4 separate regions of the Homo sapiens genome follow, and all the other regions are linked to region 2. The links come from fine-mapping of genetic effects on gene expression. A gene starts in region 2. Each other region holds a variant in brackets. All regions are shown on one strand. Distances are from middle to middle.

Region 1 (6,121 bases), 170 kb after region 2:
CAAAACAAAACAAAACAAAACCAAAACCCCCAATCTGCTCTAGACCATAGCGACCCCTTAATCCAACCACTTCATAGCTTTTTGCATGTCCCTACCTGCACATTTGAACATCTGAAGACCCCTAAAAGAACAGTGTACTGAGCATGCCTTATATGAAAAACCTTTTAGGGACTACGAAGTCCCCCTGTTTCCTAGAAGAAGGCAAGTGCCTCTTTTCCCTTGATGGTGACCTGAACAGCACTCCATTTGATTGGGATGTGATGAATCAGGAAGACTTGTGGGTAGGCATAAGATTGTTCTCTTGGATTCCCACAGGGGATCCCCTCCATACTCTCCGTTATCTTAAAATTTGGGTTATCTATATTATTGATCATCCTAGTTCAATGTGGCTTAAGATGCTGTTCTAAAACCATTAATAAAAGTATGCTCAACTTTAGTTGAGCTGGGAGATGGATTTGAGACTTGCCTCCTGTCTCTCTGGCTGACATCCCCGGCAATAAAGCCTTCCTTCCCTGGCAGTACTCATCGTCTCAGTGATTGGCATTCTCTGTGACAAGCCACTGGGCCTAGGCTGAACCCCTGGTGTTCAGCAACACAATCTTAACAATATTTAACTGAATACTTTAGGAAAATTTACATGTTAGTGGCTCGAATGTCTCCTTGACCCTCCCTCTGCCACTTATATTCAGGCCTAAGCACCCCTCTTTTGGGGGAAATATGAGGATGCCATTATAGTACTGGGGTTATAAGCACAGGGACTTTCAGGAACCAGGTGGGTCACAGTGAAATACATTTCCACAGAAACTGTGGACTTGGCTCAATAAATAGAGCCATTTATAGTCACTCAAGGCCCCCACGTCCTGAACCTCAATCCATGCATGGTTTTATAACCCTTGCTTGTGCAGGAGAAGACAGCAATTGGAGAAATGCTTCAGATGGTCTTCAGTCTCCATGCGCTGAGTCATTTTTCCAGACTGGGAGAAGCTGAGTTCCATCAGCCGAGGCTCTTCAGGGTCATCAGGATCCAGGGACTGTACACATTACTGCTCCTTAGGGGCAGAGGTACTATTGTACACAGACTTCAGGGTATTGGCTGATATGTCTCAGAGCCAGAGGCCACACCAGGAACCACAGAGGGAGTCAATTATGTATCCATATTTTGATACACCCCTTAACAAAAATAACCACTTGAAGCACTTTAAACTCTTCCAGGTATAATGTATTTCAAGCAGCAAACCTAACAGGCATTTTCCTTTATACAACCTGGCAGAAACATTACGTCAACCTAAAGTACACTCTTAGAAAAAAACCATCACATTTAATTAGGCATGTCTTGCCTATGCAGATTTTCAAGTACACTGCCAATGCAGACTTTCAAGTTCTCTGTCAAGACCAAATCTCCTAATTCCAATCTCATGAAGGGACCTTTCTCTGGACTCATCTCTAGGGATAGCCTGACAGTGTGGTTTTATTTGTGAGTGCCCCTGCCAGTCACAAGCAGGCCTTTGAGGGCATGCTCCACATTGCTGCAGGAGGGCAGGCTCTGGGTAGACCTAAGAGGACCTGATGTCCAAACCTGGCTCTGCCTCTCAAGGGCTATGTGATACAGGGCAGACCTCTTCACCTTGCTAAAGGCAGTGTCTTCTGTAGAAAGGGCACTATATGTCTAACTCACAGGAATGTTGGATAGTGCACATTTAGTACAGGGACACAGGCAACATTCAACAGATTTTATTCTTATAAAATAAAGTCCTACAGTTACTAAGAGGCACAGGAGGGGCTTGCTTAACTCATGCTCTTGTGCTATCTTTGTTTTCATTTGAACAGTTTTTAATGTAAAACAAAATATACAGAAAAATGCATAAATCTAGGCAGTTTAGCAAATACTTGTAAAGACAGCACTTGTGTGAATTTTCAAGGAAAGGACAACATTACTGATATCCAAGGAGTCTCTTGTAGGTCCCACCCCTCCGTTTACTTCCCTCTCTGCCCCTCCCCTGCCTGCCCTGACCCCCTCCTCTCACACAGCGTCCAAATAGACTAGAGCTGGCTTGGCTTTTGGAAAAAGCCTTCTCTGGCAGTGAGCAGCAATCCCTGTAGCACAGGATGCTGAGCACTGGAGGATGGCAGAGGCGCTAACAGACGAGCCTACCTGCCCTCCCATTTCCACCTCCCACACAGAAGTGCATCAGTGCCCCACAGGCCACGGCCTCCCTCCAGGGCTAAGGGATAGCTGTGTGTGCTGAGAGGAACAGGCACCCAGGGGAGTCGGG[G/T]TGCAACCGCTTTTTATTTCTATGTTTCCTGACAATCTGTCTTTCCTAACCCCTTCAGAGACCAAATTCCGTTGCTTCTTTTTCTCCTGATGCCTCTGATGGCAGTGACTGCTACCATCATTCCGGCTGCAGCAGGGAGGTGCAGCTGGAGCTGCATATTCCATAGAGCCGGGGTAGGGGGGTCCTGCCCCTTCTGAGTTTGGAGGGGAGCTCTCTGTGCCACTGCAGCTGCCTAAACCACAGGTGCAGACCCAGGCCTCCTGCTCTGCGGAGCAGGTACAGCTGCCCAAACTGCGGCTGTGGATTGGTGCCTCCCTGTGCTCCTGGGGGAGCTTGGGAACAGGCGGGATCTGCCTTCCTGCCACAGATGCAGACCTGGACCTCCCACTCCATGAAGCAGGCAGGAGACTGGGACAAGTGGTAGCCCTGCCTCTTCTAAGTTGGCGGGGTGGGAGCTCCCGGGTGCAGCTGTGGCTGTCCTCCCAGGCACAGGACCTGGGCATCTCTGCAGCCTGCACCCTCGGGGGCCCCAGGAAGGAACTCCCCTCAACCCCACCATCCCTGCAGGCTCGGGGGTGTCTGCTCCCACTGCCTGGCCTCTCTACTCTGGGCGCCTGCTCAGATATCTGAAAGGGTGATTGGGGCAGAGCCCTAGGGCCATGAATGACAGCAGGAGGCAGATTGATTTCTGGCCAGAAGTGGGTGGGTGCCCAGTAAGGCCCCACCTTCAGGCCAGAGAGAGCCTGAAGGTTGGGGGCCTGGCTGCCAGTCCTGCTGACTGGAGCGGGGACTCATGTTGCCTCTTCCATGGCCACCCATGGATCAACTGGCATGCACTTCCTCCCCTCTGAGGTCCGTAAAAGCCATAAGCTCAGCCAGAGCAGGGCAGAAGATGACCAGAAGCAGAAGAGGGCAGAGAGATGGGACCACCAGCTGCAGAGATGACTTGCCAGCAGAGGGGAGCTGCTCTGTCTGCTTAGAGTTTCAGAGACCTGCAGAGACCTCTGAATGACTTGCCTGTGGAGATGAGCCATTCTCTCTAGGGCCTCCTCTCTGATGAGAACCCAACACTGGACAACCTGCTAACAGAGAGGAGCTACCCACTCCTCTGAGCTGTTCTAACACTAAGTAAAACAGTTCCTCTTCTTTGCCCTTCACTTGTCTGTGTTCCTGGAAGCAGGACGAGAACTCAGGCAAAGACACCACAGCCACAGAGGTTTCCGGCCAGAAAAATTGACACCCCAGAGATCCTGTGAACATTTTGGGGGCTTGTTCAGGATCTGTAGAAGGGTAAAAACGATTCTGTCCTGTTTTTTGGAGTCTCTAAACTCCACAATAGTCAAAATGAAGGAAAAATACCGGGCCTCTGTCAGCCAGTTAAAAGTGACTAGAGCAGTTGCAGGACTTAAGACACAGAGGACAGGCTTGCTGGGGAGGACGTTGTCAATCCCCTATCACCCTTGGGTGTTGGGAATGTTGGCTTTGTTCCAACCCAATTTCCCTTCCTGGAGGTCTACCCATTGCATGGGACTGGAAGGAGGTCCTGGGGCAACTGAGGGTATCTGGCCAAGGCCATACCTCAGTATTATCCAAAGGCCTCTGAACTAACTCCAGTCCCCAACTGCCCGTCGGCACTAGGACCTCCAGTCTTTCCTATTGTTGTTTATTTCTTGCTTTCTTTGGTGGCTGTTGTGGTTCCTATCTCTTTTCTATACAGTGTTAAATGTTAAGGATGTTTGTTGAAAACCAGGGATGTTACTGCCTAGAATGAGCATTTAGCTTAGTCATTGAAAGTATAAAATAGAAGATTGAGTAACACAAAGTGGAGTGTGCCTTGGTGTCTGTAAGTAAACTCGTGGTAAAAATGTCCTTGTAGTTTACTTGGTTGCCAACTTAGTGCCAAGCACCTTGAGGCACAGAAAAGAAGCATTGCCTCAGGAAGGAAGCTTTTCTGTAAACACGAGGGCAAATGGTCCAAGGTCCCCCATGTGCAGGCCTTCTTTGCCTTGCAGTGTAACCCTAACCCAGACCTTTGCTGACATTGTAGGATTGATTCAGCCCTCTTAGTGGCCATCTCAGGAGAGGTTACAAGGGCAATCCCAGGGAAGTAGGGAAGCAAACTCCAGAGCTACCTCCAGCAGGGGAATCAATCTTCTCTGCTCCTCCCTATCCAGGTTATCTTTCAAGTTTACCCCAGCCTAGGAATCCTGGTTTTAGGCAGGTCCCAGTCTCAACTGCCCCTACAACAGAGGCCTGGTGAATATGGCCCCATTAAGGTCCAGAGGTCACCCTTTCTCTTCAGGACTTAAGGCAAATTAAGGGGGATCTTGGCAGGTTTTCAGACAGCCCTGATAGGTATATAGAGGCTTTCTAGAACTTAACCCAAGTATTTAAACTCTTCTGGAAGGATGGCCATGTTCCTTTTTGAATCAAACCCTGAAAAGTAGGCCCTTCTCAGCAAGTGGGAAAGAATGTTGGGAATGAGTTTTATTTACATCTTGTATAGGGCCAGGGAAGGGGCGGAACATTATCCAGTTGGAAGAATAGCAGTACCATTGGAGGACCCTAATGGGACCCCAGTGATGAAGTGGGACAATGGAAGGAAAAACTCTCAGGTGTGTATATTAGAAGGCTTGTGAGGGACTGGGACTGGGCCTCTCAATTGCACTGGGCTATCCATGGTAGATCAGGGATTGGATGGGAGTTCCAGTATCTTCCTGGAAAGGCTAACAGGAGTCTTGGTAAACACACCCCTCTATCTCCTGATTCAATAGAGGGACAGCTGGTCCTAGATCAGGCAGCCCCTCGTATCAGGAGGAAGCTGCAGAAAGAGGCCATAGAATCAGGTAGTACCTCCTGAAAGTGGCCACCTTGGTCTTGTACAATAGGAATCAGGAGGCCCAAGAGAGGGAAAGGCGACTCAAGAAAAAGGCAGAGGCTGTAATAGCCATATTGCAGGCTCACAAACCCCAGAATTCTTAAGAAGCACCTGTTGACCTCTGCAAATGTAAACCACTGGAGGGCAGACTATTCCCAAGACATGGGTTGCTGGGTCCAGGGCCAGTGTCCCAAATGGAGCAGCAGGGCTGATGGGTTCCAGGGTTCCTTTTCCTGGCTTTGGTGATTCAGATCATCATTGCCATTTAGGAGCCCTGGGTGATTCTGGGGATTGAGGGGAGGAGGATGGACCTCTTCGACTCTAGTGGGCCTTCCAATTCTCCTCTCCGACCTATGCCCTCCTTTTAGCATTACCGTGAGGGGGTCAGGAAAAGGTCAACCTCTTAGTTGTCACCTTCTTAGGCCGGGTCCCCAATTCCTGGGACTCCCTTTATCTCCCTTGTTTGAGGAGGACCTGGTCCCACAGCTTCACCTGCTTGTGTTAGGGAGGCAACAGAGAGTGGCCCCTACCCGTTGCTAGATGCAATTTAGCAAGGGCCATCTAGGACTAATTTAAAGGGTTCATACACCCTTCTGAGGTACCTTTTTATCGCAACACCTCTAGGGTCTTTCCCCTGGCCCCTAGCAGCATGCTTGCAGAGAGGCATGGCAGCTTGTCTTTAGGTAGATTGCTTATGTTTCAGATAGAAAACGAAATCCTTGTCAGACATACTATTGAATCTATCCTTGAGTGTATGAATTCTCAAGTTTGGTTGCATCTTGTTTAGACTTTGTTCTCAAGTATTTAAAAAATGGCTGGCTTTGTTCTTTAGGATAACAAGCTCCTTTAGTTCGAAAAGCTTCCCACTTCATTTGATGATTCAGTATTAATGTAGTGCCTCTGTGAATGCCAGGGCAGGGTTGGGAGCGCAAGGCCGAGGTCCTGCCATTTGGAGTAAGATTTTCCAGAC
Region 2 (6,121 bases):
TTTTTTCCAGACAGAATCTCACTCTGTCGCCCAGGCTGGAGTGCAGTGGCGTGATCTCGGCTCACTGAAACCTCTACCTCCCCAGTTCAAACGATTCTCCTGCCTCCCCCTCCTGATTAGCTGGGATTACAGGCGTGCGCCACCATGCCCAGCTAATTTTTATATTTTTAGTACAGATGGGCTTTCACTACATTGGCCAGGCTGATCTTGAATGCCTGACCTCAAATGATCCACCCGCCTCAGCCTCCCAAAATGCTGGGATTACAGGTGTGAGCCACTGCACCTGGCCTTGCCTATAATTTTTGAATAGCTTTGGAAGCAATGTGAGACAAGCTCCCTGAGGGCATTAAAGAAACCACCGTATGTCATCAAAGGATTCTTCCTGAGTACATGCAGTGGGGCTGTGGCTCTGGGTCCTCTCTGAGTGATGAAAGTTTTGCTCCCTCTCTTCTCTTCCTGTCTCCCTCTTCTCCACGGGGATCATAGATTATCTTCCTTCCCAAAACGCTAAAGCGTAAGGTACAAGTGATGAGTCTTTCTCCTGTAACCCCCTAGTGTGCACTGATTGTGGGGTGTGAGGATGGTGAGCAGATGATTAAAGTACTGTAGCATAGGTCTGATATTATAATGACCTTAAGTCCCGGAGACCCTGTTTTAGACATTCTATTTTACTATTAAACCTTAAGACCTGATTTTAGGTTTGGAAAATAATCCTCAAGACCACTCATAATTCATAAACCTGCTGTTTTATGCAGGAAGAGAATAGTCCTCCTGAATTGTGTTGACTGCTAATCCACTTTAGGCCTGACACTGAGTGAAAGGGCACCGAGAGTGGGAAGAGTTGGAATATGCCCTTTGGGCTTTGCTAGTATAGAAACAGGGTGCCTGGGAGGCCCCTTCCAAGTCACAGGAGAGAGGCAGCAGGCTGGAGGGGGCACAGTGAGAAGCTGTTCCTCCTTGCAGCCCCTCTCCCCACCCGCCACACTACTGTTGATTTGCACATTCGTGCTGTGCCTCAGCCTGGGGCGCCTGTCCTCCTTTCTCAGCTCAGGAACCTGCTATTTCTCCTTTAAGATCCTGTGCAACAGTCGCTTCTTTTCTTACAGATTCCAAAGGCCCTGAGAGATTTTTTTTTCCCTGTGTGTTCCAAAGTGTGCTGATCTACGCATGCCATAGCATTTATAAGAAGGTAGCAAAGTTAGTTATGAACATTTTTGTCTCCCAAACTGGACCGTGAGTTCTTGGGCCCAGGACCATGTTTTATGCTCTTTAATATCTGCCCCAGAGCTTAGCAAAGGGCACATCAGCTAGAGGTGCTCCCTATCATTTGAATGAATGGAGTTCAGCCTTTTGGGCCTCAAGGATAACTGTTGTAAGATCAGAAACCATCTGTTTGGAACTTGTTCATTAGATTATTTGGCTCTCAGTGGTTTTAGTATGTCTTTATGTTCTCCTTTAGTATTTAGAAAATTATCTGTAAAATTACCAGTCTGTTTTAACCAGGTTGCGACAGTGCCTTCCCCAACAAAAGATGGCTCCTTGCTTCTTCCCCTGTCCCTCAACAAAGAAAGTTTCAGGGGCCAGCATGGAGGTGACAGCTGGGATTGAGTAAATCCCAAGAAGATGGCTTGCTTGTTTTCATATCACAATCTTAAAGTTTATAGGATTTATTTTTTTTCTACTTAGAGTTGTTCCTTTACAGTCAATGTTATAGGCAAGCAGTGCCTATCATGTATCTGTTAGTATCCTCATCAGTACGTTGCTCTAGGAAACTCTCCTGACATGTGATTGGGAGAGAGAACTCCCAGCAAGTCCATTTATCATATGACTAGAGTAAGTGAAAGGCAATTCTTTTTAAAATGTGAGTTATGGAGCTTTGTAATGTGCCATTTATCTATGTCTACTGTGGAAAGGAAGGACACCAGGGCAAGTTTATTACTTAAACGGTGTGTTCTCTGTTGTCCTTAGGGCTTAATTTTCCACACCTTGTTCTGGAACATAGTAATACTCTAACATGATGAATTTCCATGAAAACATTGATTAAGCACCAGGAGTTGCTTACCCACGTGGAGTAGGCATTTGACCCTGCTTATTAGTCTTCTGTGTCTAATTAAACAGTTTGGTTAAATGTTTACTACCCCACATATGCAAGGAATATTTTCTTGGAAAAAAGCGAAAACAGCTTTGGAAATTGGAAACAATCTAGAACTACTAGGCAGGTAAGCTTGAGAATTTCCCAAGGATAAAAGCAATGAATTCAGTCAACCATAGATTTGAAATGCTTCACTAAGAAATGAAATGGAAGGATCCCTACATTTCTTTTTCCTCCCATCAAAATGGTATTGACAAGAGACCATAAACCTTGGGCGAATGGAACAAAAGGGAACTATTTGCACTCACACTAAATGGATCACACGTGAAATATTTAGTTCCCAGTTTTAAGAAGTCAATATAAACCACACAGAGAGAAAATTCTTTGTCTCCAGGCCTCCTTTTCAAAACAATCCCAGCAGGTATTGCACAATTGCAGACAATACTGTCCTAATGCATTAGAGCCTAAGTCCCCTAAACGCATTCAAGTTAAGAGGGCTCAAGCCTACAAATGTTTATTCAGCACCTGCTTCTCTGTCTCCAGGACATCCTACTTGTATTCCCAGGGCCATCCTACTTGTACTCCCAGGGCCTCCTCCTCCTTAAATGTTTAGCAAGTAGGTGAATGTTGTATGTCCATGTGAAAGATACTGGCATTCCTAGGGTGCTTAGCAGAGTTGCAGTCACATAGTAGGTATCCAACAAATGAGTAAATATGAAGGAAAACATAGAAACTGCCTTCAAGAGGTCATGGGCTAAACTAGGGCTGGGAAAAGCACTTGGTCCTGTGCACTTCCTTGGAAACAGAAGTGAGCCAAGGCTTGAGGGAGGCACGAAGGAGTTCAGAACCACTGAAGGGAGCCTCTAGTTCTTACTTGTAATGCTTTCCCCTTCAGTGCACCACACAACACAACAGGACCAGTCCCCTATCAGGGCCACCACTCTACCGGGCTGGGGAGGAAAGCCCTTCGCAGTCCTGCGGGAACAGGAGGCACTCCCACATTGCTCCACTTCTCTGTATTCCAGTTTAATTAATTTTTATATTTTGAATAAAATTACACCCACTCTCTTCCATTATGGTGAACACTTAAAATTACATTTATAGAAAATTACATTTACACAAACTTGTTTAAAAGCCAAATCCCAGACCTAGGCTATTGGCCAAATTCCATTTAAAGGGGATATTAAGTAAATTAGTTGAGCTGATTAAAAACACCTTCATCAAAGTAGAGCATTGGTGCCAACAATATTAAGAGTTGAACTATTGATTACATTTTTTTTTCCACAGCAGATAATACATTAGCAGGGAGGAAAAGTGATTACTGCTCGCTTCCACTTCACAGGTAGAACTACTGATGGGGGTGACGCGGTAAGGTGGGAGGGCATGAAGGCAGGGGACGCGGCCTAGGTCAGGAGGGACGCAGAGGAGAAAGGAAGAGGAGGGGTGGAGGCTGGTGGCTGGAGGGGGCAGAGGTCAGACGCCTCGAAGGAGGGCGCCGTGAGGGCAGAGCCGCGGCCACCTCTACCGCAGCAGCCCGTCGGGCCGGACACCAGCCGCAGCCGCCAGCCCGGCAGACGCTGGAAGCGCGCACAGGGGTGCTCCCGCTCCCGGCCGCCAGAGGGCGCGGCCGGCGATGGCGCGGCGGAGACGGAGGGAGGAGGGGAGCCGGCAGAGAAGGGTCAGCCGCGGCGGCAGGGCGGCGGCGGCAGCGGCGCAGCTCCGCTCCCCGCGCGTCTCCCTTCCCCGCGCCCAGGTAGGGCGCTCAGCCTCCGCCGCCAGGATGCGGCCGCCCGCCTGCTGGTGGCTGCTCGCGCCGCCGGCGCTGCTCGCGCTCCTCACCTGCTCCCTGGGTAAGTAGCGGGCGGCCAGGCGCGCAAGGGCGAGGCGTGGGGTTCGCGGGCACAGTCGCCCGTGCCCCGGTCGGCGCGGGGAGGGAGGCGCAGGGCGGCCCAGCCCTGCCCCGCCGGCGCGCGCGTCCCGCCGTCCGGTCCCCGCCGCGCCGCGCCGTCAGCAGCGCCCTCTCGCGGCGCCCAGGTGGGACCCGGGCCCGGGACCCGAGGCGTGCCCGCTCGGCCCCTTTCGGTCTTGGGTCCCCGCTGCCGCCCCGGCCCCAGACTCGCGTCTCCCAGCCTCTGCCGCCCCGAACCGGCGGGCGACGGGGCGGCGAGGGCGCAGCAGCCGCCCCCACAGGAAGCGCGCAGGAACTGTGCCACCGAAGAAACTTTGCAACAGCGCGAGTGGCGGCGGCGGCGGTCCCGCCCCCCTGCCTTCCGCCCGCGCTCCGCCGTCCTGCGCGCCCCGCGCCGGGCGGGAGGCTGGACGGGAGCCGGCGAGGCGGCCCTCGAGGCCCCGCGGCTCCTGTTCGACCCCCGGGGGCGAGGACTGCGGTCCCGGTGTCCGCGCGCCCCTCCGCAGGGCCTTCGGGACGTGCCCTGGCCCCTGAGGATAAGCGGCCAGCTCGGCGCCAGCCCTTCCCGGATTCCGACCCGGAGGAGGACAGGGGCGCCCGCTGGGCCTCCGCGGGAGCTGGCGCGGCGGGGAGGCTTGCTCCTGTCTCGGGTCTCCGCTGGGGACATCAGGGGACACGTCTGCGAGCAGAGCAGTGCTTGCCCGGTCTCCTGCTGCTGTAATGCCCATTCTTTTTTATTTCTTTTCTCCTCGCAAGGGCATTTCCCCCCTTTATCTTAAAACGATGTGATAAAAGTTAAAAAAAAAAAAAAAGCAGCCTTGTAATTGACTTTCATGATCAGATTTGTTCAACTTTGAAAGCTTGAGCGAAAAATTATTTTTTTTTCAGACTGCTACAGAGTTTTTGTCCTCTAACCCAGACTTGCTGGTGTGAAAAGGCAATGATTTCAGATTTTTTAGTAATGGCAGAATGGTGCAGTTTAGGAAAAGACGTAGCGTTATTGCGCACTGCTCTTGTTAGCCCACCGGAACCTTGACAGCCTGTTTTTATTTGTATTTAAGCTCTCTGAATAAGGATTAATTTGCTGCATTTGTGTACTTCTGGCATTTCTATAGGCGCTCAGTAAGTGTGGGAAAAGAGCAAGATTAGTTGGTAATTGTTTACATGCATGATTAATTAGGCAGCAGTGTAATTAAAAATATTAGGGCACCTCCGGCAGAGAAGGCTGTAGTTGGTCTTGGGGAGCGACTGAATTTGGCTGGAATCGGCTTCAGTGGAAGAAGGGCATTGCTGGGTGGCAGCCCTGGGAGAAAGGGAGGTTGGAGGTTTGGGAAAGCGACTGGGTGACTCCTGGCTGCATCAGTTGGCTTGTTGCCTGGATGTTTTGCAACTAACCAAATGGGTGGGTGGTAGCTGAAATTGGTATTCTATTTATAGCACTGCACTTTATAATGCTGTACTGGGGGTATAATATTTGTATATAATATATACAACATATGGGCTGAAATGCACATTTGTATTGCTGTGTCTATTTTTTATTACCCCCAGGGGAATATTTGCACTGTCCAAATTTGATAATACACTGAAGGACATTCAGAATGCACTAAGATGTCAACACATTTTTAGAGATGTCTATTAGCCTTGTGAAGTTGTCAGATAAGCACAATAAATAAGACATAAAATGCATTAAAAGGTCCCTGTGAGACATTTGGCCTTTGGGAACTGGCTTTCATGGGTTGGCACAGACGGGAGGCTGTATTCTTCGAGGTCTGAAGTGAATCATGAATACCTTTTATGGAGCTCTGCTTCGATTTAGGGGAAGGGCACCGACACGTATAAAGATGTCCCCACTTACGATGTTCTTGGAATCTTGCTGAAACAGAATGTGACAGGCGTTCTGTCACATGTGAACAATCTTGATAGTTTATAAATACCTTAAATATTCCCATATAAGATTGGCCTGACTATATAGTTTAGTTTCCCCACAAACTAGAGCATATTTGTTTATATTTTTAGAGAAAAGTCAATATAGAAAATTTCTTTTAAACCCACATGCATATACAGACACGGTTCACTGCAACTTTGGTTCTAAAGTCTGGCACCAGTTTCAGAATGAGAAG
Region 3 (6,121 bases), 38 kb after region 2:
CTTGAAGAATGCACAGTCCCAGAGAGGAGAAGGGCCATCAGCAGGCAGTTTTTCTTTTTTTTTTTTCTTTTCCTTTGTTTTTGAGATAGAGTCTCACTCTGTCGCCCAGGCTGGAGTGCAGTGGCGTCATCTCAGCTCACTGCAAGCTCCGCCTCCCGGGTTCATGCCATTCTCCTGCCTCAGCCTCCCGAGTAGCTGGGACTACAGGCACCCGCCACCACACCTGGCTAATTTTTTTTTGTATTTTTAGTAGAGACGGGGTTTCACCATGTTAGCCAGGATGGTCTTGATCTCCTGACCTCGTAATCTTCCTGCCTCGGCCTCCCAAAGTGCTGGGATTACAGGCATGAGCCACTGTGCCTGGCCAAGCAGGCAGTTTTCAAGCAAGGTGGAAGAGCAGTGATAGAAGGGTACTTGGGACACAAAGGAGGGCCCCTACCATGGTGAAGTGGGGCAGGGGAGCTGAGGAGGGGATGTGATGCTCAAGGAGGGATTTCTGAAAGTGCTGAGCCTGGAACTGAGCCTACCTATTAGGCACTAGCTAGGTTGAGGCTGAGGTGGGAGGGGAGGGCTTTCAGGGTAAGGAGGACAGCAGGTAAGGTGGCCAGGTGAGAGGTGGAAGCACAGGTGTGTGGGCTGTGATGCTGTCCTGGGGCCAGCGGATGGGGGGTGGCAGTGTGGGCCACAGGCCTGGGAAGTCAGGATGGATCATGGTCACGCAGAATTGTATGTCCTCTGGGGAGCCAGGCTTCTCTGGGGGCTTCTCTGAGGGCCCTCCTGGTATTCTGAGGTGTATCTCTTTGGTATACAGGTGTTTAGCATCTCTCGTCTCTGGCAATACATGTAGCAGTGACCCTGGTCTCTATTACAGTTAAAAGTGCCCCTTGGTTGAGGATTACTACCAGGGAGTGCCGTTAGGGAGTAGACCTGGTAGAGTTTGTGTTTTAAAACCATCCCCTGGTGGCCTTAGGGAGAATGGCATTAAGAGAGCCAGGACTGGGCGAGGAACCTCATTCTAAGGTCGTGGGACTAGTCTTGGGCCATGCTGCACAGGGCGGGTTGCAGACTGCTGTGTGCCCTCCACCACAGCAGTTTGAGAAGCCCTGGGCTGGGGACAGGGCCATGGATCTGGCTGGGGGTGGCGTAGGGGTGCTGCAGGGCCAGAATGGTGGGAGATGGACCCAGGCTGGAGAGAATGGCAGGGACGCTTCCAGCTGGGACTCAGATGAGGTGGGGCTGCTGAGTGAGATTGAGGACAGGTTCTCAGGTTTAGAGGGTGATGATGACTTTGGGTGTCATATCTGAAGTGAGGGTGTGAGTAGCTGGAGGCTGGATATTTGTTTTACGCTCAGGAGAAAGATTTGGCCAGAAGATGGTAGATTTGAGAGTCAGCAGCATACATAGGTAGTGGCTAGAAGCTTGAAGGTGCTGCTTCCAGGGGAAGCCATGGGCCCTGCGGGAAGACCAGTGTCTAGGGGCTGGGCAGAGTCGGAGCAGACTGAAGGGCCATACGAAGGGATACAGAGAGGAGGGGCAGTGTGGGATGCTGGCTACCTGAGGACTGGCCCGTCAAATTGCCATCAGTAATGCGACATTCTCTGGAGAGGCCTCAGAGAGACTGGTCTCAGACTGCCTGACTAATTGGGACTGTGGCCTGCGCACTGACCTCAGGATGCATCCCACTCAGTGTGCTTCGTTGTTGCTGGCACCACCACTGTTATTATTTTTTAATTGTAATAAAAAACACCTAAAATGCACGTCTTAAGTGTACAACTCAGCAGTGTCAAGTGGAATCATGTTGTGTAACAGATCTCCAGAGCTTTTTTATCTTGTGAAACTAAAATCTGTATGCATTGAACAACTCCCCATTCCTCCCTACCCCAACCCCTGGCTACCACCATTCTACTTGCTGTTTCTGTGAATTTGATTTTTCTGGATTTCTCGAAGAGTGGAGTCATAGGTATTTGTCCTTTTGCGACTGGCTTCTGTCACTTACTAATGCCTTCAGGATTTATGACAGACTCTGTGTTGTTGCAGGTAACCTCAGTCCACTGTGATGGACATTTTCATCTGTAGACACCTATTTCCTTGGATGCTCATTTGGCATTTCACGTATGCACCCCCAAGGTGTACTTTGTCCTTCAGTGTATCTGTTCTGCCTTCAGGCTCCAGAGGGAGGTGGGACCTGTTCCCTATTCCTTTTTGCATCCCGCATAGCACGTAGTGGATTGCCAAACACACACAGCATTAGAACCTGTATTTCCATTGATTCATTGTCCTTAGCTTTTGAAGCTTAGGAAATAGCTACATTTCTTTAAAGTATTTGACTTTTTAGTGCTTTATTCTATGCATCTATTTAGCTTTATCACGCTTATACTTAATTTTTATTGTCCTTTATTTGCAGTTTTCTGTTTAGACAGCCTGTTGAGTAGGGGACTTAGATTGCCACTAGGTGGCAACATTGGTTTTACATTTAAAGGCATGTAATTAACCAATATTGTTAGGCAATGCACCCCCATCACCCCCAGCATTTAATTTCTGTGATAGTAAGTAGAGCCTAGACTAAAGCAATAAGGAAGCTTCCCTTTAATTATACGAAGGTCGGTTATTGTTCTGAAATTCTTTGCTTGGATGAAGCCAGCTAAGAGCACCCAAGTAGTTATGACCAAACTTTAATTTGGTCACAAGATCCATAGTGAGCTGTTACAGCTTAGGTAATTTCATTTTTGGGTTAACAAGTCTTTTGGAAGTTGAACTGTCCAGAAAGATTTTAGGGTTTGCAATTATACTTGATTCTGGATCATTTTTTCTTTTACAGAGTTTTTTATGCCACATGTATGATTAAAAGTTGACTTTATTCCATGAATAGCACTTTAGAGATCCATGAATGGGGCCAAGTATGGTGGTTCACCCCTGTAATCCCAGCACCTTGGGAGGCCAAGGTGGGCGGATCACCTGAGGTCTGGAGTTCAAGACCAGCCTGGCCAACATGGTGAAACCCTGTCTATACAAAAATACAAAAATTAGCCGGTCGTGGTGGCCAGCTCCTGTAATCCCAGCTACTCTGGAGGCAGAGGCAGGAGAGTTGCCTGGACCTAGTAGGCGGAGGTCGCAGTGACCCGAGATCGCACCACTGCACTCCGGCCTGGGCAACAGAGCGAGACTCCATCTCAAAAAAAAAAAAAGAGAGATCCAAGAACAAGAATGGCTGACAGCTAACGTAGGGTCTGTAGACAATACTTAGGGGGCAATGATGAGATAACTTCACCTGGAACTAAATGAAAATAGAGAAATAAGATCAACTTCTGAGAATTAAATGCTGAAATTCACAAAGCATAGGGAGGCAAAGTCACTTTAAAGAGGCAGGAGGGCTCCTTAGTTAAAACTTAGCTGGAGGCT[G/GT]TTTTTTTTTTTTTTTTTTAGATGGAGTTTTGCTTCTGTTTCCTAGGCTGGAGTGCAGTGGTGCGATCTCAGCTCACTGCAACCTCTGCCTTCTGGGTTCAAGCGATTCTCCTGCCTCAGTCTCCAGAGCAGCTGGAGTTACAGGTGCCTACTACCACGCCTGGCTGATTTTTTGTATTTTTAGTTGAGACAGGGTTTCACCATGTTGGCCAGGCTTCTCTCGAACTCCTGACCTCAGGTGACCCACCCGCCTTGGCCTCCCAAAATGCTGGGATTACAGGTGTGAGCCACCATGCCCCGTCTACTGGAGGCTGTTTTAAGAAATGGACATGCTCAAGAAAGAACTGGTGACTCCGTCAGCTGTGGGAGCTGAGAAAGGGAAAAACTAAGAGGCATAAGTTGTTGGCGTCCCAGTGCTGTGGTGGGAGCAGGCTGGCTCCTCAAAGGGGTGTCTCAGCAGCTTGGTGTGGCAGGTATGCACCGTGCCTGTAAGGGACGGGATGTCTGGGACCCTCATGTCACCTGGGACCCCAACTGTGAAGCATGAAGGTTGCAGTTTTGGTTTCTTCATCAATTTGCCCACCATGAACATTCGTAAAAGTTGCTTGGTGAGGCAGAAGTCAGCAGTAAGTTTTATCATTTGAATATTTATCTGATAGCTCAAAATATATATTCCTCCCACAATACCAGATGTCTAGAACTGCTGTTTAGTCATTACTCTGTCAGGTTGCACTTGACTACAAAGTCTGCCAAAAAATTAAGGTGCAAAAATTTAATGACTTCTGTGATTATGCATCTGTTTCCAGCTATTCTCTTTGCTTAGGCAAGTCATTACCTATGCCTGTTTTGCCTCAAGGTGCTAAAATGCAGCCTTATTAAAAACGGAAACATTTTTCATCATTACAGCATGAATCTAAAAAGAAAGAGCGTAAACTAACTTTTTATCTGACATTTAATACTGTGTGCAGAGTTGTTAGTAGAAGAGTTAAACTGTTTCCCTTGTTTTCTGCAACAAGGGTCATTGTAAGTAGTCATTTCCATCTCCAGTTTTGAAGCTTATCATGCAGTTATAATGGTGCTGAGGTTGATAATTTTATGTTCTTTCCAATCTATAACTCAGCTGACTTCATCAGGTTCTATTCTATGTGCAGAGTATCATTCTAAGTTGCTCTGTCACAAAGGATTAGAAAGGAATTTAGTAGAATGCGTATTCTCGTTTTTATAAAGTAGATGGTAACTATTTCATAATATAAGTGAGTATATCATTAAGCAGAAATTGTAAGTACAGAATCAGTGTTTTAAAGAATCCACTCAATAGGCCAGGCGCACCTGTAGTCCCACCTACTCAGGAGGCTGAGGCAGGAGGATTGCTTGAATCTAAGAGTTTGAGACCACCTTGGGCAACATAGCAAGACCCCATCTCAAAAGAGAAAAAAATTGACTCAACAAATATTAATTGAGCATCTATGGTTATATTAGTCATTTTTGAATGCAAAAAGACATCTGTAGACAACACATGGGGGCCTTGAGAATGACGATAACGTGTTTGAAGCTGTGTAGCAATATGTAAAAAGTTTGAGTTGACGCTGTGCTAATTGTGCATGTGAAGCCTGAGAGGAGAAGGCGGGAAGACTTTTGTGAAATCACTCAGGAAAGACAGGGAAAATGAGCTGGAGGACATAGGTTTAGAACATAGTTCTGGAAGATGAAGACATGAATTGCCAGAAGGTCTGCTTTTGGGATGCCAAGTAGGAACTGGAATTTGTAAGGGAACAGTTTGTGGGATGGGTAAAGTGTGTGTTGGGAGTGGAATGTGATCTTTGTAGATTGCAGTGAATGGAAGGGAGGGTCGGTGAGAGTGGGGATGTGGCTGATGACTACGGCTTCCTAAATGCAGATCTGCACATAGAGGAATACAGAGTTTGAAGAAGAGCTATTTTTTTCCCTGTTTTTTTCCTCCCTGTATCACAGATGGAAGGGTAATGTGAAGTGATCGAGACTGACTATTTAAAGAGGTATGCAAACAAAAAGCAAAGTGGAGGTGAGACAGACAGAAACCCATAAGGAGAGTTTGTGCAATGATCTAATAAATCACCTGTTTGAGTTTATTTTGTTCAGATGCCTATTATGTGCACTGCATCTGTGTCAATTATGATTTGACATCTGTTTTTTTGACTTAAAATTCCTTCTGGAGTGGATATTTGTGTAAAAATTCTTATATTAAATATTTTGTTAGTTACATGAAACAAAAGAGCAAACAGCTCAGGTTCTAGAGATGATACTATTAAGTATCTTGAATTTATGTTGTGATGGCAAAGCTGTCACCTGAGTCTTTTTTTTTTTTTTTCCTTCTAGAACCTGGGGTCTAGCCACCAAGCGGATCCCATGCTGAAACAATCTTTCCTGTAGTTTCAAAAGCATATTAACACCTGTCTAAAACCATTGTTGTTCTCCAGAGGAACTTTACGTAAGATTAAATTGGAAACAATGAAGGAGAGAAGATAAAGCATAATTGCATTGCTTTCAGTAGGTTCTAGTAAAGCAAGAATCCAGGCACCATTTGAAGACACTAAAGTAGGAACTTTAACCTCAGCACAAGGCCAGGGTCTTGCTTGCCCAGGGAATCACTTTGGATGGGGAGCAGAGAAGTAAGCCACTGTAGAAGGAATATTTGGGGAGAGGGGTAGGACAGTGTTTAGAATTAAGGCAGGAGCTGAGAAAT
Region 4 (6,121 bases), 49 kb after region 2:
TCTATTAAACATAAAGACATTTCCGTTGTTATAAAGTTTTCATCATAATTTTAATTGATACATAATAACTCATTAGCTACTTTTATGTAAAACTTTAAAAAGTATTTGCTATATTTCTTTTCTTGTCTAGCTCACATTTGCATTTACCCATAATTATTCCAAAGTTTTATGCAAATAGTAACATCATTAGTTTCTTTACACATGATTTTCTGCTCTTATGTAATCCTTCATGAATATATATATTTGCTGGAATTTTAAAAAGACAATGAAAATTACTGCATAATTCAGAAGTAACAGTAGGAAGGCCCTGAATTATTTATATTGGGTAACTGCTAATTCAGCCTTAAGGTTTGCTCTTTCTAACATACCACATTGTTTGTCTGATTTAACCTGTGATTACTGTTTTTTGCATTTCATATTTCTACATGGAAGTTGAAATGAATATTATATAAAATAAATGAGATTTACTTGAAATTTAATTCCAAAGATTTACATTAAAGACTATTCTCTTCTTAAATAATAAATATCTATGAACTTTAAGACAGCTGTGAAATCCACATCAGTGCAGTAATGTTTCAGATACTTAGGTACTTGTTCTTGAATTCTTTTGTCTGTAATGGTTACTAGGAATATAGTTTTATGGCTAGTATAAAACACAGGATATAATAAAGTTTGTTGGGGGAGGAGGTTTAAGCATATGAGATATGAAATTTTTGACTTTTGGCTTTTGTAACAACTTGAAATATAGGGAATAGTGTTTTGCTTCAAAGCTAACACTCGTAGCCTTAAAAATATTAATCTCTCTTTATATATGTATACATAATTTATGTAAGCACAGTTGTGCCTTATTTCTGAATTTTAGTTCCTCCTATGCTTATAAATTTGTCAATTCCATTATTATGCTATTCCTGTTATTGCCTGAGTAATTAAGGATTACATTTCTCGACCAAAACTTTTTGTTATCAGGGTATTTTAATGTGTTTAGAGAACTTTAAAAAGTAAAGTAATTTTTGCACATGAGGTAGATCAAATATTGTATCCTCTAGTTTAGCCAAAGGGTTTTCATTTTCACATGTTCCATATGTTGTATATAAAATAAAAAACTGCTTCTGTGCCTCTGAGTTATCCCTGACTACTTCCCCCAGGCTCTTCCCTTCAAGTCACCTTCACAGATTTCAGGTTGGCTCGGAGTCACGGAAGACCCTCCTTGTAGGTCTTGAGCTCTATTTGGGTGTGTGGGTGGTGCAGAGTGTAGAGGTTGCATGGATTCAGCCAAAATACTTCATTTCCAGTAGCTCCTGGAGAAAATGAGGAAAAAGAAGTGGTTTGAAGAGTACCATGTCAGGTCTCTAGAAACAGCTGCATTTTAAGCCAAGCCTTTTCTTTTTTTCTTTTTTCTTTTCTTTTCTTTTCTTTTTTTTTTTTTTTACTTTTTTTCGGAGTAGTCAATTCATACTTATCTTCTTTGATCATTGTTTTCTCAGGAGCTCCCCAGTGTCCTCCTCCTTCATCAGCTGGCTAAACAAGAAGGTGCATGGACCATACTTCCGTTGTTACCGCAGTACGTTTGTTTAACTCACCTGTGAATTACTGACATTCCTACCTGAACACTTTTACGCCCTTAGTCTTTTTATTAAGAGGGTGTGGTTTTCCTCAGTCAGTAAGTGAAGTAAATTTGAGTTTTACTTTTTATGATTACTACCTTAACCAAATTTCTTGATGATTGGTTCTTAATCATGAATAGCTTTTTCTTTTTTTTTGGAGACAGAGTCTCGCTCTGTCGCCAGGCTGGAATGCAGTGGTGACTTGGCTCCTGCAAGCTCTGCCTCATGGGTTCAAGCAATTCCCTGCCTCAGCCTCCCGAGTAGCTGTGACTACAGGCGTGCACCACCACTCCCAGTTATTTTTTTATTTTTAGTATAGATGAGATTTTACCATGTTGGCCAGGATGGCCTTGATCTGTTGACCTTGTGATCCGTCTGCCTTGGCCTCCCAAAGTGCTGGGATAACAGGCGTGAGCCACCACACCCTGCCCTATATATGCTTTTTCTTAAAGAATAAAATGCTTCAAGTTGATATTTGAAAATTATTTATCCCCTGAACTAGTGTTGTTATGGAGAGAATTAACTTTACGAACTCCAGCTGTTTTTTAAACCATTAGCATCTGGCTTTTCTATAAGCTGAAGAAAAATATAGAGAAAAAAATTAGATATGCCATTCTGTGTACCCTTCATTCACTTCCTACTGATCAGTTTTAAACCTTATTATTAACTTATTTTACAGAAGTGATTACTGAAACTTGTTTCTTTTGGTCAGTTTTTCTGTAACATATAGCAGAAATTCATCTTGGATTTTCTTCTGTGAAGAAGAGACAAGAATACAGATTCCAAAACTCTTGGAAACCCTCAGAAGATATGACCCCTCTAAGGTGAATATAACTTCAATACCAGTTCTTATTTTGGGGGACAGTGTTTCAAAGGAGATTTAATTTTGATTAAGAAGCTTTTGAATCTAATAAAAAACCACTTAGTTTAAAATTAAAAAGAATGAAACATTGTTGAATATCTGAGATATGTTAAGTAATGCTCTTTGAAGTTTGTAGCTTATAGAGGGACAGAGCTTATAATGAGCCATTTTAAATGAAAAAAATCTGTTAATATATGTGTTAGCAATTTCAGAGAGTTGGAAACTATAACTTGAAGTTCATAAACTGCTTTTCTTAGCAATAAACTTAAGTTGGCTATTTCTGCTTATTAGACAGTGACCATATATTATTTTAGATAGAAAATTTTTTTTGAGTGCCAGCTGTATACTGAGCACTGTGGATGGCGGAGGCTAGAACAAAACAGACAGCGATTCTGAACATGTGGGTGGCACAGAATAGCAGGGAGAACAGACCATTAGAGAAGCAGTTATGGTTAGAAGGAAAACATCTCTAATAAGGAAGACTAGGGTGCTGTTAGAAGCATATAACAGGGGCATGGAATCTAACCTGGGAGGGTCAGGACAGGAAGTGACATTTAATCTGAGTTCTGTAGGATGAGTAGGAGTTAGCAAGAGAGAAAGAGGGTCTACCAGGCAGAGGGAACACGATTTGAGAAAGAATGGGGGTGGGAAGGGATGTATCTTGAACTAGAGGAACTCAGTGAAGTCCACTACTGCTTTTACATTTTCAGATCTTGTTTTTATTTCATGCAGATTTGATAGAGCAACTGGATTTTGTTTGCCTTGAAATCCCTAGCCCTTAGCAGAGTGTTTAACACTTAGTAGGTGGTCAGTGAATATTTGCGAATGACTTTATAACCCTGTAATAATCAGTTTTGCTGCTGGGCTATGTTCAAAGGCTCGTTAGGTTTAGAGAGCTGCCTTGGAAATGTGTCAAGAGTAAATCGAGCTCATTCAGTTCTCTTTCAGAGGAAAGAAGCCCAGGTTACAACCTGATCACTTTTTGGAATTCTTTAAACTTGAGATAAGCAGAGATGGGCCCTTTCTGGTCCCAGTGGAAACCTGTCCCACCCACCTTCGAATGCTCGCTCCTGAGATGAATCAGATGTAATGAGCTC[A/G]TGGGGAATAAAAGGCAAGCTTCTGGGTTCTGCTCGGTTTGTTGATGTAGATGTCAAACACTGGGCAACAGTGATCGTTAGATTAATTTCTCCAACCCTGGAAAGCCTGTTACTATAATAGAAACCACTGCTTTTGATGATCTTTAAATGCTGGAAAGATCCACTATGATTTTTCTTCATGCTTTTAATTTCTGGGAAGCTTTAGATATAATTGGATGAGAAGGTCATTGGGTTAAAAAAATAATTCTTTCAAAGAGAAGAATTATGAACCTGTCTCATCCAGTCTTTTCAGATGACACTAACCAGCATCTGTGCACTTTCTGCCATGTTTTATGCAAACCATTTGTTAGGCTTTTATGTTTCCTTTTGGCTTGGGAAAAACTCCCAAATCTTTTTTAGGATGTAGGAGTTTTCACCTCCTCCTAGTGTTCATTTCACCTGGAGGTTATTTTTCCATTATCCATAGCTCTAATTCTGTACAGGAGATGGTGACTCACTTTGCTTTTTAATGAAAATTGGGATGATAAATTTAAAAGTTCAAAGCAAGTTCATGAAAAGCAAGTACAGAACAGAGGTAAAAGGAGATGTTTTCTCCCTCTTTTCAGAACTCTGCCATGTGTAAAAAAAAACCATCCAGGATGCTTTATTTCTTTTGAGACTAACAGTAAGAAATGATAAAGATTATATGATGTTGAAGTTAGCTCAAACCAGTGTGATTTTTTTGTCCTCTACCATTTGAAGGGAAAAAAGTATAAAGCAAACCTGGCTTTGATATTTACACAAATAAACTTTGAGTACATTAAAATAATTATGTAATGTGTGAGGGTATAAGGTATTTTGTTTGATTCTGATTTATTTCCATCATCATCTTTCAGTCATTCTTACTAATGCAAATGTATACTGTCAAAATATTTTAAATGTAAAACTTTTAACTTTTATTAATCTTTATTAAATTGCCTTCCTCGGTGATTTCTATAAATTTTTGTATGTTGTTTGAAGTCTTTCCTTTGTAACCACAGTATGCTTTTAATATATGTGTATTTTATGAGGTGTGTTGACTTTAAATTTATTTTGTTTTATTTTATTTTTTGAGACAGAGTCTCGTTCTGTCACCCAGGCCGGAGTGCAGTGGTGCAGTCTTGGCTCACTGCAACCTCCACCTCCCAGGTTCAATCAATTCTTGTGCCTCAGCCTCCCAAGTAGCTGGGATTACAGTCTTGCACCAGCAAACCTGAGTAATTTTTGAATTTTTAGTAAAGATGGGATTTTGCCCTGTTGGCCAGTCTGGTCTTCAACTCCTGGTCTCAAGTGATCTGCCTGCCTCGGCCTCCCAAAGTGCTGGGATTACAGGCATGGAGCCACCACACCTGGCCTAAATTTATTTTTAATAGAGATAAAACACAGGTGCTTGCAAAAAGTAATTCTGAGGGGCGTCCGCCATTGCTGAGGCTTGAGTAGGCAATTTTACCCTCACAGTGTAAACAAAGCCACCAGGAAGTTCAAACTGGGTGGAGCCCACCACAGCGAGGCAAGGCCTCTGCCGCCAGACTGCCTGTTTAGATTCCCTCCTCTCTGGGCAGGGCGTCTCTGAAAAAAGGCAGCAGCCCCAGTCAGAGACTTATAGATAAAACCTCCACCTCCCTGGGACAGAGAACCTGGGGGAAGGGGCAGTTGTGGGCGCCACTTCAGCAGACTTAAATGTCCCTACCTGGCAGCTCTGAAGAGAGCAGCGGATCTCTCAGCACAGTGTTTGAGCTCTGATAAGGGACAGCCTCCCTCCTGAAGTGGGTCCCTGAACCCCCGTGTAGCCTGACTGGGAGACACCTCCCAGTAGGGGCCGACAGACACCTCATACAGGAGAGCTCTGACTGGCATCTGGCAGGTGCTCCTCTGGGATGAAGCTTCCAGAGGAAGGAACAGGCAGCAATCTTTGTGGTTCTGCACCCTCCACCGGGGATACCCAGGCAAACAGGATCTGGAACGGATCTCCAGCAAACTCCAGCAGACCTGTAGCAGGGGACCAGACTGTTAGAAGGAAAACTAATAAACAGAAAGGAATAGTATCAACATCAACAAAAAGGACGTCCACTCAGAGACCCCCTCCGAAGGTCACCGACTTCAAAGACCAAACGTAGATAAATCCATGAAGATTGGGGAGAAACTAGCACAAAACGGCTGAAAATCCCAAAAACCAGAACACCTCTTCTCCTTCAAAGGATCACAACTCCTCACCAGCAAGGGAACAAAACTGGATGGAGAATGAGTTTGACGAATTGACAGAAGTAGGCTTCCGAAGGTGGGTAATAACAAACTCCTTCAAGCTAAAGGAGCATGTTCTAACCCAGTGCAAGGAAGCTAAGAACCTTGAAAAAAGGTTATAGGAATTGCTAACTAGAATAACCAGTTTAGAGAAGAACGTAAATGACCTGATGGAGCTGAAAAACACAGCACAAGCACTTTGTGAAGCATACCCAAGTACCAATAGCCGAATCGATCAAGTGGAAGAAAGGATATCAGAGATTGAAGATCAACTCAATGAAATAAAGCAAGAAGACAAG

Alleles and levels. Positions count from the first base shown, and alleles are read on the strand shown. Sizes are in standard deviations (SD) of each study's normalised expression. Not every link is listed here.
As copies of T replace G in region 1, the expression in pancreatic islets of the gene that starts at base 3,763 in region 2 goes down (moderate effect, 0.62 SD a copy in van de Bunt 2015).

What was found. PIP is the estimated chance that this variant, and not a neighbour inherited with it, causes the effect. A credible set is the group of variants that fine-mapping cannot tell apart.
Region 1: its variant is the best candidate, but not a certain one, in a credible set for the expression of B3GLCT in pancreatic islets (van de Bunt 2015, PIP 0.77).
Region 3: its variant is the best candidate, but not a certain one, in a credible set for the expression of B3GLCT in rectum (CEDAR, PIP 0.62).
Region 4: its variant is the best candidate, but not a certain one, in a credible set for the expression of B3GLCT in left ventricle (GTEx, PIP 0.89).

The regions. Positions count from the first base shown.
Region 1 is chr13:31,362,321-31,368,441 of GRCh38, forward strand. No RefSeq gene overlaps it. Among named protein-coding and RNA genes, the nearest start is that of B3GLCT, 170 kb to the left of the region's middle. The variant G/T (reference allele first, on the strand shown) is at 2,274.
Region 2 is chr13:31,196,213-31,202,333 of GRCh38, forward strand. It overlaps B3GLCT (beta 3-glucosyltransferase), which reads left to right and starts at 3,763. Exons shown (of 15, transcript NM_194318.4): 1 at 3,763-3,942. The coding sequence starts at 3,873. RefSeq lists silencers at 3,404-3,463, 3,514-4,413, 4,474-4,723.
Region 3 is chr13:31,233,954-31,240,074 of GRCh38, forward strand. All of the region lies in intron 4 of B3GLCT (beta 3-glucosyltransferase), which reads left to right. Among named protein-coding and RNA genes, the nearest start is that of B3GLCT, 37 kb to the left of the region's middle. The variant G/GT (reference allele first, on the strand shown) is at 3,400.
Region 4 is chr13:31,245,539-31,251,659 of GRCh38, forward strand. B3GLCT (beta 3-glucosyltransferase) reads left to right here. Exons shown (of 15, transcript NM_194318.4): 5 at 1,485-1,561; 6 at 2,317-2,428. Among named protein-coding and RNA genes, the nearest start is that of B3GLCT, 49 kb to the left of the region's middle. The variant A/G (reference allele first, on the strand shown) is at 3,564.